Linked DNA regions of Homo sapiens. The protein of the gene in region 1 interacts with the protein of each later gene in a pairwise test. Each region holds a gene or a part of one and is shown on either strand. Other genes may lie near its edges.

Region 1 (8,322 bases):
TGTGCATGAATGCAAGGAGCCTCCAGCAGGTGGGGCTAAAGGATAGGCGAGACATCTCCAACAGGGGAGATTGAGCTTAACCAGGACCCAAGATGGGAAATGCCCCAAGTAAGGTAAGAGATAAAAAGGAGAAAGCTAGCAACAGTAATATTCCCCCAGGCCTAATGTTAAAATGTTAGAAGGATAATGAAAGGACCAAAAACAAAAGCAGCTGCTGTCCCAGACCCTTCTCCTATCTCTGATGTCCCCTTTCTTACAACCCTGCCTCTTGAGAATCGTCCCAAGAGCCCACTCACTACCGACCTAAGTACCTTTCCCTTAAAGGACTTCAACGTGAGATAGAGCAATGTAAAAAAGATATTCAGAATTTCCCTTTCCCCTCTTCTCGGGGGAAGAAAGAGACATGATCCATAGAGCTGCTATGGGAGCCTAGGAACACGAACACCCTCCTGGCCAAAACGTTCCTACAGCAGATCAAAAAACTCCCACCCAAGACCCCCAGTGGGACAATAACAACGCAGCCCACCGAGAAAATATGCAGGACCTTAAGGAATTGATAATAAAGGGGATTAAAGCATCAGTACCCCGAGGCTGGGCGCAGTGGCTCACGCCTGTAATCCCAGCACTTTGGGAGGCCGAGGCAGGCAGATCACAAGGTCAGGAGATCGAGACCATCCTGGCCAACACAGTGAAACCCCGTCTCTACTAAAAAATACAAAAAAATTAGCTGGGCATAGTGGCAGGCGCCTTTAGTCCCAGCTACTCAGGAGGCTGAGGCAGGAGAATGGCGTGAACCCAGAAGGCGGAGCTTGCAGTGAGCCGAGATCACGCCACTGCACTCCAGCACTCTAGCCTGAGCAACAGAGCAAGGCTCCATCTCAAAAAAAAAAAAAAAATTGGTACCCCGAACTCAGTATCTTACCCGAATATTTGATATACAGCAAGGGAAAGATGAAGGGCCTATAGAATTTTTAGATAGATTAAAGGAACAAATGAGAAAATACACTGGTCTAGGTCTCAAGGATCCTCTTGGGCAGGGAATGTTAAAACTTCATTTTGTCACTAACAGTTGGCCAGATATTAACAAGAAATTACAAAAGATAGAGAACTGGAAAGATAAACCTATAGAAGAGCTTCTAAGAGAAGCCCAAAAGGTATATATAAGAAAAGATGATGAAAAACAAAAGCAGAAGGCAAAAATTCTGCTGTCTACCATACAACAAAGTACCCAGGGGGCCAGAACCTATAAAGAACCTAGACTGAGGGCTGGGCGCGGCGGCTCACGCCTGTAATCCCAGCACTTTGGGAGGCCAAGGCGAGCGGATCACGAGGTCAGGAGACCAAGACCATCCTGGCTAACACGGTGAAACCCCGTCTCTACTAAAAAAAAGCAGCCGGGCATGGTGGTGGGCGCCTGTAGTCCCAGCTACTCGGGAGGCTGAGGCAGGAGAATGGCGTGAACCCAGGAGGCGGAGGTTGCAGTGAGCCAAGATCGCGCCACTACACTCCAGCCTGGGCGACAGAGCGAGACTCCGTCTCAAAAAAAAAAAAAAAAAAAAAAAAAGAACCTAGACCCCCACTCTCCAGGCAATATATAGAGTATGAAAGAGTAAAGCCAGGAGACTCAAAAGTAAAGAAAAAAAAAACTTAGAGGAGAGAGAAAGACTGACAGAACAGACAGAGTCAAAGAGAGAGAGACAGGCAAAAAGGGAAAGAGAGAGGCAGAGAGAAAGGCAAAGGGAGAGAGTCAAAGAGGAAGAGAGAGGCAGAGAGAGAGGCAAAGAGAAAGAGTGAGAGAGAAAAAGAGGCAGAGAGGGAGAGGCAAAGGGAGAGAAAGAGGACAAAATAAATGTTTCAGATTAAAAATAGGTCACTTCAAAAGAAAATGTCCCAAATGGGAAAAAGAACAAAAGTCATATATAAAAGCAAATCAGCTAATATTAAATTTCTGTTTATTCCAGAGGCAGGAACAAACCTATTAGAGAGATTTAATGCTAAAATTTGGCTTAGGCCTCTATATTAATCAGGGAAGATTCCTCCCCTCCCTAAACTTGCTCCCCACCACAGACAAAGAACTCATTCATCCCAAGGTATGGTCAAAAGACGAGAATCGAGGAAAGTTACAGATTACTCAGTTTCATGTTAAATTACAAACCCCTGGGGAAGTAGTAAAGAGAAAGCAATGTATCCTATTCCTTTCAAAGCCGAGGTAAATTTAAAACCTATAATTGATAATTGAAGGTCTTCTCCGTGATGGATTTCTTAAACCCTGTATGTCTCCCTATAACATTCCAATACTGCCTGTAAAGACGCCAGACAGGTCATACCGGTTAGTGCAAGACCTTAGAGCTATTTTTTTTTTTTTTTTTTTTGAGACAGAGTCTTGCTCTTTCGCCCAGGCCAGAGTGCAGTGGCACTATCTCGGCTCACTGCAAGCTCCGCCTCCCGGGTTCACGCCATTCTCCTGCCCAGCCTCCCGAGTAGCTGGGGCTACAGGCGTGTACCACCACGCTTGGCTAATTTTTGTATTTTTAGTAGAGATGGGGTTTCACCATGTTGGCCAGGCTGGTCTCGAACTCCTGACCTCAAGTGAACTGCCCGCCTTGGCCTCCCAAAGTGCTGGGATTACAGGTGTGAGCCACCACGCCTGGCACCATGTTTGTTTTTTTAAAAAGCAGATCACCACCCACTAAATTAATTTTGCAAACCCACTGACGTCCATATCCTGCAGTTTGAAAAACACTGCAATAAATATTGGTAGGAGGTAGAAGTTTTACCCTTAGCCCAGGCTGCCAGTCCTGGCTTCCTTCCCTTTGCCTCTCAGCTGTGCCCTGAGCCTGCTTGTGACTAAGCCAGACCCAGGCCAGCTCAGCTCTAGCTGGACAGAGGAGCCACCATGTAGCTGAGAGCCCTTTTGTAGCGCGCCGAGAGCTCAGCCTTCTCTGTGTCTCTCAGGCTTTCCCTGCAGGAGTCATCAGGCAGCAATGATGTGGATTCTGTCTCTACTGCAACCCTCAGCCCAGCTATGAGAAAGGCATTCTTCCCATTGCTCAGATGAGAAGCCTGAGGCCGATCAGGGTGAAGTGACTATGGCATAAGGACAAACAGGACTGGTCCGCCTGTGAAATTCAGAATGTGAATTAGGCAGGAAAATTGGCTCTCTAGAAAATACTGTGGAAGTGCTGAATAGGATTGATAGGTGGCTGTGGAAAAGAAAGTGCTAGAGACACAGAAAACCGATACAAAAATGGGCAGGGCGGCCAGGCGCGGTGGCTCACGCCTGTTATCCCAGCACTTTGGGAAGCCGAGGCGAGCGATAACTTAAGGTCAGGAGTTCGAGACCAGCCTGGCCAACATGGTGAAATATAAAATTTCTGTACCAAAAATATAAAAAATTAGCCAGGTGTGGTGGTGCTCGCCTGTAATCCCAAGTACTTGGGGGGCTGAGGCAGGAGAATCCCTTGAACCCTGGAGGTGGAGGTTGCGGTGAGCCAAGATCATGCCACTGCACTCCAGCCTAGCTACAGAGCAAGACTCCGTCTCAAAAAAAAAAAAAAAAAGGCTGGGTGCAGTGGCTCACGCCTGTAATTCCAGCACTTTGGGAGGCCCAGGTGGGCAGATCATGAGGTCAATAGATCGAGACCATCCTAGCCAACATGGTGAAACTCCGTCTCTACTAAAAATATAAAAATTAGCTAGGCGTGGTGAGGCACGCCTGTAGTCCCAGCTACTGGGGAGGCAGAGGGAGAAGAATCCCTTGAACCCAGGAGGCAGAGGTTGCAGTGAGCCGAGATCGCGCCACTGCACTCCAGCCTGGGCAACAAGAGCGAGACTCTGTCTCAAAAAAAAAAAAAAAAAAAAAAAAAACTTTGATCAACAATTTGGAAACTGCCTGTTCTTTTAAAAACGCTCTTTCAGCTGCTGCTAATCCGAGTGTATATTCAGGACAACTTGAATCTCTGCTCCGAGTTGCAGTCTTCGAACTTGACCCAAAAAAACTCCCTGCTTAAATTAGGCTCGCCTCAGTTTTCATTTGTTTTCCTTTAGGCGGACACAGACGAGGGCCACTTAAAGGATGGCCCCTAAACTCCCGGTTGAGTTCTTTTACATATAAAGGGCATCATGCCTTTGAGGAGCTTAGCTTTACATATTAAATGGAGAAACAGAACCTGTCAACATCTGTAGGAAGTGGACAGCGCCAGTTATAAACAGGAGGCCAGGCAAGGTGGCTCACGCCTGTAATCCCAGCACTTTGGGAGGCTGAAGCGGGCGGATCACTTGAGCTCAGGAGTTCCAGACCAGCCTGGCCAACATGGCGAAACTCCGTCTCTACTAAAAATACAAAAATCAGCCCGGCGTGGTGGCGCGCGCCTGTAATCCCAGCTACCTGGGAGGCTGAGGCAGGAAAATCACTTGAACCCGGGATTTGGATGTTGCAGTGAGCGGAGATCACGCCACTGCACTGTAGCCTGGGAGACAGAGCGAGACTCTGTCATTAATAAATAAATATATGTAAATAAAATAAAGCAACAAGAGTTTGCAAAATCCAAAACCACGGGGACTTCTCAACTGCCTTTTCTCCCTTAAGTACCCTCCATTGCTACCCCTGCTCCATCACCTCCTCTTCCGGTCCCTCCTCTAGGGCCCGCCCACCCCTTCCGTTTCCGCCCCGCCCCGCCCCCGCCTTCGCCCAGACCAGGGCCCGCCCGCCTCTTCCAATCCGTTCCCCGACGGCCTGCCCATTGCTTCCGGTCCGTAGCTGAGGCCCCGCCCCTTCAACTGTGCCTCAGCCCGCCATTCCCATTGGCGGAAAATCCCAGACGCCCCTCAAATTGGAGAGGGACAGATGGGCGCTGTGGCTCACGCCCGTAATCACAACCCTCTGAGAAGCCGAGGCGGGCGGATCACGAGGTCAAAAGATCGAGACCGTCCTGGCCAACGTGGTGAAACCCCGTCTCTACTAAAAATAAAAAAATTAGCTGGGCGTGGTGGCGCGCGCCTCTAGTCGGGAGGCTGAGGCAGGAGAATCGCTTGAACCCGGAAGGCGGAGGTTGCAGTGAGCCGAGATCGCGCCACTGCACCCCAGCCTGGCAACAGAGCGAGACTCTGGCTCAAAAAAAAAAAAAAAAAAAAAAAAAATTGGAGAGGGACGCTCTTCCGCCTGCCTGTACCCGGAAGTGACGTTATGTACGTCCCCCCCCGAGGAAGTGACGACAGGCGTGCCCTTGACAGGCAGGGAGGGCTAGGCTGTGCATCCCTCCGCTCGCATTGCAGGGAGGTAGGAGCCCTGTGGGGGTGGCTCGAGGTGGTGTCGCGGCTGAGGCATGCCGCGAGCGCGTTCCTGCGCAGGCTGGCGGCCGGGCGGGCGGGGGGATCTAGCTCGCCGGAGAGCCAGGGTCCCTGGTGATGTCCGATTTTTCCCAGTTCCCTCCACACATGTCCCTTCTTTATTGGTTCCCTCCAGTACATGTCTCTTCGTTTTTGGTTCCTCTCACACTCTTAGTTCCTCCTTGAATTGTTGCGTTTCATCTTTTCAGACGACCCTGGGTTCCAGTGTTGGCTGTCATTTAATAGCGGGGTTACTTTGGGCATGTCACTTAACTTACTTGAGCCTCGTATTCCTTCCCTTACTCGCAGTGTGGGCAGTACAATAGCAACTTCCTGGAAGTTGCTGTAGGAAGACCAATAATGTGTGTAAGGTACTTGGTCCTTACATACATTATTAAATCTGTTGGTTTCTTCCTCCCATTCTTCCGTTATAATCTAAATCCCGATTTCTTTTTGGTTGTGAAGCCAGTTTTCCTGTCCTTCTGGTTTGCCTAGCTGTTCCTTCCCTTTGATTCTCATTGCTTCCTCACTTCCACGCTACAAATCTTACATATGATTTCCTTGCATTTTGCTTCCAACTCTGCCTCTTCCTGAGCCCTGAGTACTCCCCAAATCTTTTTCTAGTGTGTCGACTTCCTTTTGTGTGCCCCAGTTCTTCTGCCTCTTTCCCTCACAGATGGCTCAGCGACTTCTTCTGAGGAGGTTCCTGGCCTCTGTCATCTCCAGGAAGCCCTCTCAGGGTCAGTGGCCACCCCTCACTTCCAGAGCCCTGCAGACCCCACAATGCAGTCCTGGTGGCCTGACTGTAACACCCAACCCAGCCCGGACAATATACACCACGAGGATCTCCTTGACAACCTTTAATATCCAGGATGGACCTGACTTTCAAGACCGAGTGGTCAACAGTGAGACACCAGTGGTTGTGGATTTCCACGCACAGTGAGTATTGGGGGTCCACAGAAGACTAGGGTCCTACTTGTTCAAGTATTTATTGAATGCCTGCTGTGTCCCACGGCCATGTTCTATGCTGCTCATATGTAGACTCAATATACAGACTGGTCAGGCCCAGTCCCTGCCCTCAAGGGGAATGCAGTCTGGTGGAAGACAGACAAGTGAACAGTCTGCAAAGCTGACTGTTAGTGCTGGGAAACACATGTTCTGTTTCTCAATCCCCAGAAAGCTCAGCGTCATCTTTAGCATGGACCAGAGTTGGAAAAATATGACTGTCACCTTGCTTTTGGTGTATACCAGTTCCTGGCCCTGCAGATAAGCTGATGTTAACATCCTGCCATGAAAACCGCAAGAAGGGCTGGCAAAAAGTTATCAGTGTCGGCCGGGTGCGGTGGCTCATGCCTGTAATCCCAGCACTTTGGGAGGCCAAGGCGGGCAGATCACCTGAGGTCAGGAGTTCAAGACCAGCCTGGCCAACATGGTGATACCCTGTCTCTATTAAAAATACAAAATTAGCTAGGCGTGGTGGTGTGTGCCTGTAATCCCAGCTACTCGGGAGGCTGAGGCAGGAGAATCACTTGAACCTAAGAGGTAGTGTTTGTAGTGAGCTGAAGATCGCGCCATTACACTCCAGCCTGGGCAAAAAGAGTGAAATTCCATCTCAAAAAAAAAAAAAAAAAGTTATCGGTGTCACTACCGTGGTGCCCAAGCATACAGGGCATAGGAAGGAGTTTCCTTTCAGTGCTATCTGAGTTTGCTTTAGAGATATTTAAGTCCCTCTGGCCTTCTGAATTTTAGCCTGGGCTTTTTCATTTCTAGATCTTTGGGGCCTGGCTAGACACCCAACTACACAAAAGCTGGACAAAGCCCTCTGAATGAGGCATCCTGGGAGAAACCAGTGTAGCATAAGTTAAAAATTCAGGGGCCTTCAGGTCGGACGCAGTGGCTCACACCTGTAATCCCAGCACTTTCAGAGGCCGAGGCAGGTGGATTACCTGAGGTCAGGAGTTTGAGACCTGCCCAGCCAACATAGTGAAACCCCATCTCTACCAAAAATACAAAAATTAATCGGGCGTGGTGGCGGGCACCTGTAATCCCAGCTACCCAAGAGGCTGAGGCAGGAGAATCGCTTGAACCTGGGAGGTGGAGGTTGCAGTGAGCTGAGATCGCGCCATTGCACTCCAGCCTGGGTGACAGAGGGAAACTCCATCTCAAAAAAAAAAAAAAAGAAAAAGAAATTGAAGGGCCTTCTGGTCAGGTCTCTGACAGATTGTTTCGCTGGCTTTCCAGTTGTTTCTCTGACTCACCCTGTGGCCTTGGGCAGGCCACTTGATATCTTTGTGCTCCCTTTCTTCACTTGTAATAGGAGATAAGGTCTTGCACACTGGGTTTTTCAGTGTTATGAGTTGTTTTTGTTTTTCTTCTTTTAGAGACAAGGTCTCACTCTGTCACCCAGGCTAGAATGTAGAGTGCAGTGGTGCGATCACGGCTCACTGCAGTCTCTACCTCCTGATCTCAAGCAATCCTCCCACCTTGGCCTCCCAAAGTGCTAGGATTACAGGCATGAACCACTGCGCCAGGCCTGAGGGTTTTTTTTCCTTTTTTGTTTTTGAGACAGAGTCTCATTCTGTCACCCAGGCTGGACTGCAGTGGTTCAGTCAGCTCACTGCAACCTCCACCTCCCGAGTTAAAACAATTTTCCTGCCTCAGCCTCCCAAGTAGTTGGGACTACCACCCAGATAATTTTTTTGTATTTTTAGTAGAGACGGGGTTTCACCATATTGGCCAGGCTAGTCTCTCAAACTCCTGACCACAGGTGATTCTCTCCCGCCTTGGCCTCCCAGAGTGCTAGGATTACAGGTGTGAGCCATTATGCCCGGCCTATTTTTCAGCATTTAAAACCGTCAGGCCTGGCTGGGTGCGGTGTGCACCACCACACCTGCTACTCAGGAGGCTGAGGCAGGAGAATTGCTTGAACCCGGGAGGCGGAAGTTGCAGTGAGCCGAGATCGCGCCATTGCACTCCAGCCTGGGCAACAGAGTG
Region 2 (8,112 bases), on another chromosome or scaffold:
TGCATCCATAGGATGGGACAATATGGGACCTTTGCAGATGTCAGTAGATACAGATGTATGTTGAGGTGTGAAGATGTACTCTGAAAAAAAGTTGGTTTGATTATACATACACACAAACAATCTATGGTGTTAGTAAGCCAAATATGTGTACAAAATATAACATTTCTTCTTTTCTGGCAGGTGTATTGTGATATTTTTTCTTATCTGTGATGTATAAATGATCAGCATGTTTAAAACTTCTAGTAAATGTTTTTTATTAATGAAATTATCCTTGGGAAAAGAAGAAATATAAATCTTGCAAAGAAAAAAAATTCTCAGTTTCTATTTTATTATTAATTTCTTCGTTTGTTTGTTTATTTTTGAGATGGAGTCTCACCCTGTCGCCCAGCCTGCAGTGCAGTGGCATGATCTCAGCTCACTGCAATCTGCCTCTCAGGTTCAAGTGATTCTCCCACCTCAGCCTCCTGAGTAGCTGGGATTACAGGTGTGCGCCACCATGCCCAGCTAATTTTTGTATATTTTAGTAAAGACGGGGTTTCACCATGTTGACCAGGCTGGTCTCAAACTCCTGACCTCAGGTGATCCCCCCGCCTCGGCCTCCCAAAGTTCTGGGATTACAGGTGTGAGCCACTGTGCCTGGCCTTATTTTTATTTTTTTGTTTATTGGTATCTTCTGTGAACTTTTAGCCTCTTCAGAGGCAGAGGGAATATTTTTATTTGTGCTTGATTATTTTATTATGCATAGATTTTAGTATATACATAAGTTTTTATTATAGTTTTATTACATATAAGGAAACAATTTTAAATTAATTATTTTAGTTTATCAGTGTCCTCATGAAAATGAAAATGAGCAAATATAAGTGATTATCACTATTCCAAAAGCACTGCTTTAATTTATAGTTTTTTTCACAATAAACTTCCCAACTGTATGTATGCATTCTTTCAATCCAGTTATTCATCAAGCATAACCTGAATACCTATTATGTAGCAGACACATTCCACCATCTCTCAGGACTCTTCCACCCTTAACAACTTCATGTTTACCTGCCCAGCCTGAGCAAGCTGAGATTTAAAATGGAAGCATTAGGACTGAATCCCAGTTGGATCTTTTATTCCTTTTTTTTTTTTTAAACAAAAGCAATTCTGAAGTTAGAAAATAGTGAAAGATAACCTTTAACTGCCATTTCAAAAACTTATGACAGTCTCAAATACTACTATTAATCATTGCAAATACCTAATTTACATAACATTCTGTAAGTATTGAAAAAAATGAGCCATACCTATTCATTTGAATCCTGAGTTTTCTTTGGATTATTTTTTTTTGAAAGTTGAAGTAAGAATTACTTTGTTTTAAAAATTTGTTTTTTTATTTTTGCCTTCTTTTTCCACAGTACTTCATTTAGGTGCCAATTATATGAATAGAACTGCCTGTTCTATGAACTGTATCCCACTTAATGTAAGGCATCACGGATTGGGTGATGCCACATTACTTTATATATCGATAAGATAATGTTTAAAATGTTGCCAGTTATAAATGTAATAAATAATGAATTGTAAACAGTTTTCCAATGTCAGGAGATGTTAATATATAAGAGAATAGTAGCTTATATAAGAGAATAGTGAGAAAATGAGCATCTGAGAATGACTGAAATACAATGATACATCTAATCTTTAATAGATACCTCAATGTAGATATGATTGTATCATTTTACTTAATTAAAATGTCTTTGTCTTTGTAAGTAGTGATATCTAAAAATTATTGAGCTGTTATTTGTGTTAGAAAGTGTTCTAAATGCTGTGCATAGATTCTTATGTAAGCATCACAGCAGTGTTCTGTGGGCTAGCTACTATTCTCTTACATATTTTATTGATAAGGAAATTGAAGCAAAGAAAGGCTAAATAACAGCTAAGTGACAGAGCTTACAGTAAATTTTAAGCCCCAATTAAACTGAATCCAAAAGCCAAGCCTTTTCTATTAAATAGCCTGCTCTTTCATTAATGTGGTGAGTAATAAGCGCTAACAAATGTTGTACTTTCTTCACAAGAAAATTACATATTTGTTTTGAAGACAGAGAAATAACATGCTAATTAATGCTTACAGTTACATGTTTTAAAAAGTCCTGTCACTCTCACAGGACTGCCCTACATTTGGCCTGTGCCACTGGCCAACCGGAAATGGTACATCTCCTGGTGTCCAGAAGATGTGAGCTTAACCTCTGCGACCGTGAAGACAGGACACCTCTGATCAAGGTACATAGTAGCTGACTCTTTGAGCATGAGATGGATTTGGTTGAAGTACATAGGATAAAATGAATTTATCTCATTGGAATACCACCATATAACTAGTAGGAAATCCTACGGAGTGTTTATTTTGATTTTTTCAGTATTTGCATGTTTCTCGGTCTAATACTGACAGGCTGTACAACTGAGGCAGGAGGCTTGTGCAACTCTTCTGCTGCAAAATGGCGCCGATCCAAATATTACGGATGTCTTTGGAAGGACTGCTCTGCACTACGCTGTGTATAATGAAGATACATCCATGATAGAAAAACTTCTTTCACATGGTACAAATATTGAAGAATGCAGCAAGGTATAGGTCAACCAATGTTATTTTCAAACTATCTGAAATGCATTTATTTTAACATTGACACATGTAAGGGTCAATTTTTCATATTTGGAAGCTCAAACATTCCTTGAATGAAAATATTTTGAAATGCCTTAACTGTCTAAGATTTTACTTTAAATATTGGAACTTTTAAAGAAGCATTATAGGGAACAGCCTTTTTTCATGCACTTATGGTAAATAACTATAAAAACAAATGAATTACAATAAATTTATAATTCATGACAACTGAATTTGGGAAAGGTAATAGTTAAGTGTTTTTCCACTAAATTACTTTTTTTCTAATCAGTGTGAAGTGACACAGGAAAGTAAAATTGTCCCTTATAAATAGGCTTTATTTTAAATGTCAAAGAAAATTAAAGAATTTCACAATAAATGTACATGTTGTTGCTGTTGACAAGTGTTGTATGTGAAGGTGATTTCATTTGAAAGTGATTCCTCTGTGGAAAGGCTTAAGAGGGAAAAATGAAGAAAAGGAGAGCAATCAGAAATGCACAAGCTAATTTGGAAATTAGGTAATGAGGGAAAATACTGTGGAGAGGGTTTTTGTGTGTTTTGTTGTTTGTTTTCAATTTATATGTTTAGACAAAGATCGCTTCAGTTTTGGGGATGATTATTCTTACTTTGGGAAAGAGTTTGTGAGTTGTGAAATTGCCCAGGGATCAATTTTGGTAAGACTCTGAGGAAACCAGGTTGGCAGTGAATAGTGGTGATGAAGCGGCACACAGTTCAGCAGAGAGAAGAACACATAATTAATGGACATTATTCAATTCTGGCAGAAACAGCCACTCAGATAAGCATCTAAACTCTACTCTCAAGTCCAGAATGTCTTGATGGGCAGGTGGGAGATACGGAGCTTATAAATAGTAAAATCAAGTTGGATTTTGAGCTTACTAGTCTCTTCCCTACCCCTACCCAGGAAAAGTAAATGAAGTCTTCAGTGAATGGCTCTATCTTTTGCTCTTTCCTCTTTTCGGCCAAATCCCAAACGATAAAGGGAATTTGCCACGTGGGTGAGAAATGAGACTGAAGTGATTATCAACTGTGCTGGTTCGCAGTTAGAATTGTGCATGGCAGTAACCTGGGGAAATTAAAAGCAAATCTCTAAGTCTAGGATATCCCCTGAAGATTTTAATATAGTAAATCTAATATTTACTATTAAATATTACTGGGCATGTATGTTTTAAAATATTTCCTTGAAGCTGGGCATGGTGGTGCCTCTAGCCAGAGCAACAGATTAAGACACTGCCTCTAACAGCAACAACACAACAACAACAACAACAATAAAACATTTCTTGGGACACTGATACGCTGCTGGTTAAGAACCACTGAATAGATAAGTGTAATATAAATTCCCATATCTCAAACACACAAAAAATCTCTAGAAGAGCTGGAGATAGGTGCTGCTTCCTTTAAATTTCTCCTTTCCAATAATATTGGCCTGACTTTTACCTGTCTCTACCTCTGTGGTTGGGAAGTGGAAAGGACTATTATTTGCAGTATCTATCAGCATAAGAATAACACCTTTTCTTTGCCACCATCACTTATTCACTGCCATTCATAGGGTCATTAGAAATTTGCTATTGTGGACTCTTTTAATAAGTAGAGACTGACTCTTTCAGGACTCTGAGTCTCTTTGTTATCATTCTGGTGATTAGGTCAATACATCATTATTAAAAGCGGGGTTCTCTCAATTACAATAGCAAAAAATTCTAAACCTTTTTTTAAAGCTGAAGCTCTATTATGGACTGCCTCAGTATGTCAGTTAAGTACATAGAACTGTGGCATAATCAGGATAGCAGTTTTAAACACTGAAAACCATGAAGTTAGTAAGAATACAAAGAATACATATAGGTCATTATTAGAGCTTTAATTGATAAGCCATTGTATTTTTATTTCTGATTTATATTTTACCTAAAATAAAAAAAATTAGGTTACAATATAGAAACTAGAATTATAATTTAATATTATTTTAATAATTTAGTTGCAGCAGTCCTATGAACTAATTATCCATTTGGTGAACAATCTGGGAAAATTAAACATAAATTATAAATGAATGAATGTTGTAAAAGTGCTCAAAGTGGGTATTATGACTCTTAGTAACAATTTTTATTGCATTCTTGGGCCTATTTTGGAAAAAAAATCTGAAACTAAAGAAAGGAAGTATTTTACATGAAAATACTTGCTTTACATACAATCGCTTGGAGACATATCCATAGCAAATATAAAAATACAAGGTATATAGTCCAAATGTGTCCCATACATGTGTTTAGTTTGCGTCTACAAATTGTCTCAACATGGAAGGTTTAGGAGACTCGTGCACAGATCTGGATTCCAAGCTTCTCTTCAAGAATCCAATCTGGTGTCCCTTGAGCCTATCTCAGGTTTTGGATGCTGTGCAGAGGTTGCCCCTTTCTATGAGGCATGTGGTCTCCATTTTGCTACTGTGCCTACCTAGGTACTTCACTTCCTCAGGTCATCTCCCTTGCCTCTGTAGGGATGACTTTACAAGCCCTGTTTTATAATATATTTTAGTAAATATTTCAAGGTTTTCAAGACATTTTATATTTATTTAAATGTAGAGTCTATATTTTATATAAATCCTTTGGTAATCGGGTTGAACTTTTGAATTTAGATGGTGGTGTTTTATAAACTATTTATACATACCATAAATAATCATCTTCCCATTAGAATGCATGTAAGCTTTTTAAGGTGAATCATGGTATAGTTGCATAGGTTATGCATATTGCAGACAACATTATATTTTTCTCTTCAGCATTGCCTCCTAAAAATGCAAGTAATTGGCCGAGCGCAGTGGCTCACGCCTGTAATCCTAGCACTTTGGGAGGCAGAGGCAGGTAGATCACGAGGTCAGAAGATTGAGACCATCCTGGCTAACACGGTGAAACCCCCTCTCTACTACAAATACAAAAAATTAGCTGGGTGTGGTGGCACACGCCTGTAGTCCCAGCTACTCGGGAGGCTGAGGCAGGAGAATTTCTCGTGCTTGAATCCGGGAGGCGGAGGTTGCAGTGAGCCGAGATGGCACCACTGCACTCCAGCCTGGGTGACAGAGCGAGACTCCATCTCAAATAAATAAATAAATAAATAAATAAATGATGCAAATAATTTAGTGGTTTTCATTATGCTATAAATAATTCATATAGGTCATTATTAGAGCTTTAATTGATAAGCCATTGTATTTTTATTTCTGATTGATATTTTACCTAAAATAAAATAAGTTAGGTAAGAATGAATTGGAAACTAGAATACAAATAGATTTTTAAAGGAGTTATGTACCAGGGTCCTAAGATTATAATTACATAAATATTTGCATCAGGGTCCTAAGATTGTAATTGAGAATAACATTTCATACAGAGCTTTCTGACAGCTAAGATAAAAATATTACTAGAGAAAACCCATGGACTATTTAATAATAAGCAGTGAAAGTTCACTCGAAGCCTATCTCTATTAATTCAGAGCCCGGCTCTCCGAATTAAAAAGAGATAGGCTTCAAATGAACTGTCAATCGTGTCAGAATCTCAGATGACAATGTCAGGTGCTCAGGTGCTCAGGAGCTCCTGACATTGTCACCTGAGATTCTCACACCATCGATAGAAGAGAATGAGGCAAGTGTGTATCACCCAGAGGAAACCTCTACCTTTACTGGTAAGCTCTCACAACTGTATCCCTGAAACTCTCATTTCTCAAATGTTAACATTCTCCAAAATAAGTATTTACAAATAGGGATTAGGTGAAGTTCAAAAGATTTCTCAAATACTAGACACATAATGCACAGTTTTGTAACATTTTTCAAACATGGGTGATCATGGAGTCTCTCTTTTGGGGTATAATGTTCAAATTCTGGTAAAGTAAATATCCTTTGGAATATATTAATAGTTTAAGAAACACCGCTCTATAGATAATAATTTAGATCATTAATAAAAATACCTGAAACATTTATTACTGTGTCTTAGAGTTTGAGGACATAGAGAAAAAAATACAGCTGCTGCCCTCAAGAAGCTCTTGGTTCAGGTGGGAAACAATTAAATCCTTGAAACATGCCATGCTAAATGCTGGGACAGAAGCAAAGATTCTTGGAACTGGGAAATGTTTGAAGTGAGTTTTGGAGATGACCAGAGTTCTTGTGGTGAGGCAGAGGAGGTTGTTTCCAGGGGAAGGAGCAGAACATAGAAAAGCACCGAGGAGGGAAAAGAAAGGGACTACCTCTTACGACCTTTCAATTGTATATATTGAAGCTCACAGGATCTTACATAAGGTTTTCATTTCAGTTGATAAATATGTAATTTTGTGATTATAAATTGTTGCTGTTATTTTACAGAATGAATATCAGCCACTGTTACTTGCTGTGAGTCGAAGAAAAGTGAAAATGGTGGAATTTTTATTAAAGAAAAAAGCAAATGTAAATGCCATTGATTATCTTGGCAGGTACAGACCTTAGTTCTTATTGTGTTGTTTTTAAACCTGAGTGTCATTTTAGAGTGGTAGCAGTCACTCAAGTCACAAATATTACATTAGTAAGAAGACTAACTTTTAATTACTGGGATATAGTGAGAAATATCAACACAGATCATCACTTAGGTAGAAAAACAATTATTTGGACTGAGTAACATAAAGAACAGTGTATAGCAGGATTCATCTCTCTCTATAGACATTATACACATAAAAGGCTTCTATATATAGAAAGCTCTGTATATTGATAGATGTTTGTTATTTGTAAGATGATGTGGTGTTATTTACAATGTAATAATGTGATGCTTTTGATTGTATGATCTTACATTAGCTAAAGGGGTTTCATGTTAGTTTTTCATTTCTACTGTGTTTTGATGTTGTTTTTAATTGATATGGGGAGGGGGAAAAAAGATAGCTTTAGATGGATAAAACTTTACTTCAATGAAGACAAGCTTTAGGTTCACACAGGACTGGGTTTAATCCCTAGCTTTCCCACTTGCTAGATGTGTGACCTTGGTAACATTACTTACCAAGTATGTTTTCTTCTGTGAAAAGGAGGGTAATAATATATCCTTCAAGGGTGGTTGTGTGTAAGTAACATTATATATATATAATGTTAGAATGTCCAGCTAACAGAGCAAGGTGCTGATGTTTTGGAAACAATGGCTGAGCATATAAGTATGTGCATATAATATATATACACACATATGTATGTAAGAATATAATGTAACTAACATCATATATAATATATAATATATACAATATATATTTATAGATAATATATAATATACTATATATTATATATTTTATAGATTATATATAATATACTATATATATTTTATATATATGTGATATTACTTATACACAACCACCCTTGAAGGATATATTATTATCCTCCATATATATATATATATAGTGTTTAATTAAATGCCTAGCACATGCTTATGAGCATCATTAACTGAAGCTATGACTACTACTATTAGCATTCCTATTAATATTATTGTTTTAAGCCTGCA

Evidence for each region.
Region 2: the proteins of TXN2 (region 1) and ANKRD36B interact in binary tests that used the Homo sapiens proteins (3 or more experiments, as listed by UniProt).

What each region holds. Positions count from the first base shown.
Region 1 is NC_000022.11:36,478,520-36,486,841, reverse strand, and holds the start of TXN2 (thioredoxin, mitochondrial precursor), read left to right. Parts: upstream 1-5,201; 5' UTR 5,202-5,278; exon of another isoform or gene 5,279-5,699; intron 5,700-6,004; coding exon 6,005-6,267; intron 6,268-8,322.
Region 2 is NC_000002.12:97,579,422-97,587,533, reverse strand, and holds part of ANKRD36B (ankyrin repeat domain-containing protein 36B), read left to right. Parts: intron 1-2,135; coding exon 2,136-2,250; intron 2,251-2,416; coding exon 2,417-2,590; coding exon of another isoform or gene 2,591-2,596; exon of another isoform or gene 2,597-3,023; intron 3,024-6,965; coding exon 6,966-7,072; intron 7,073-8,112.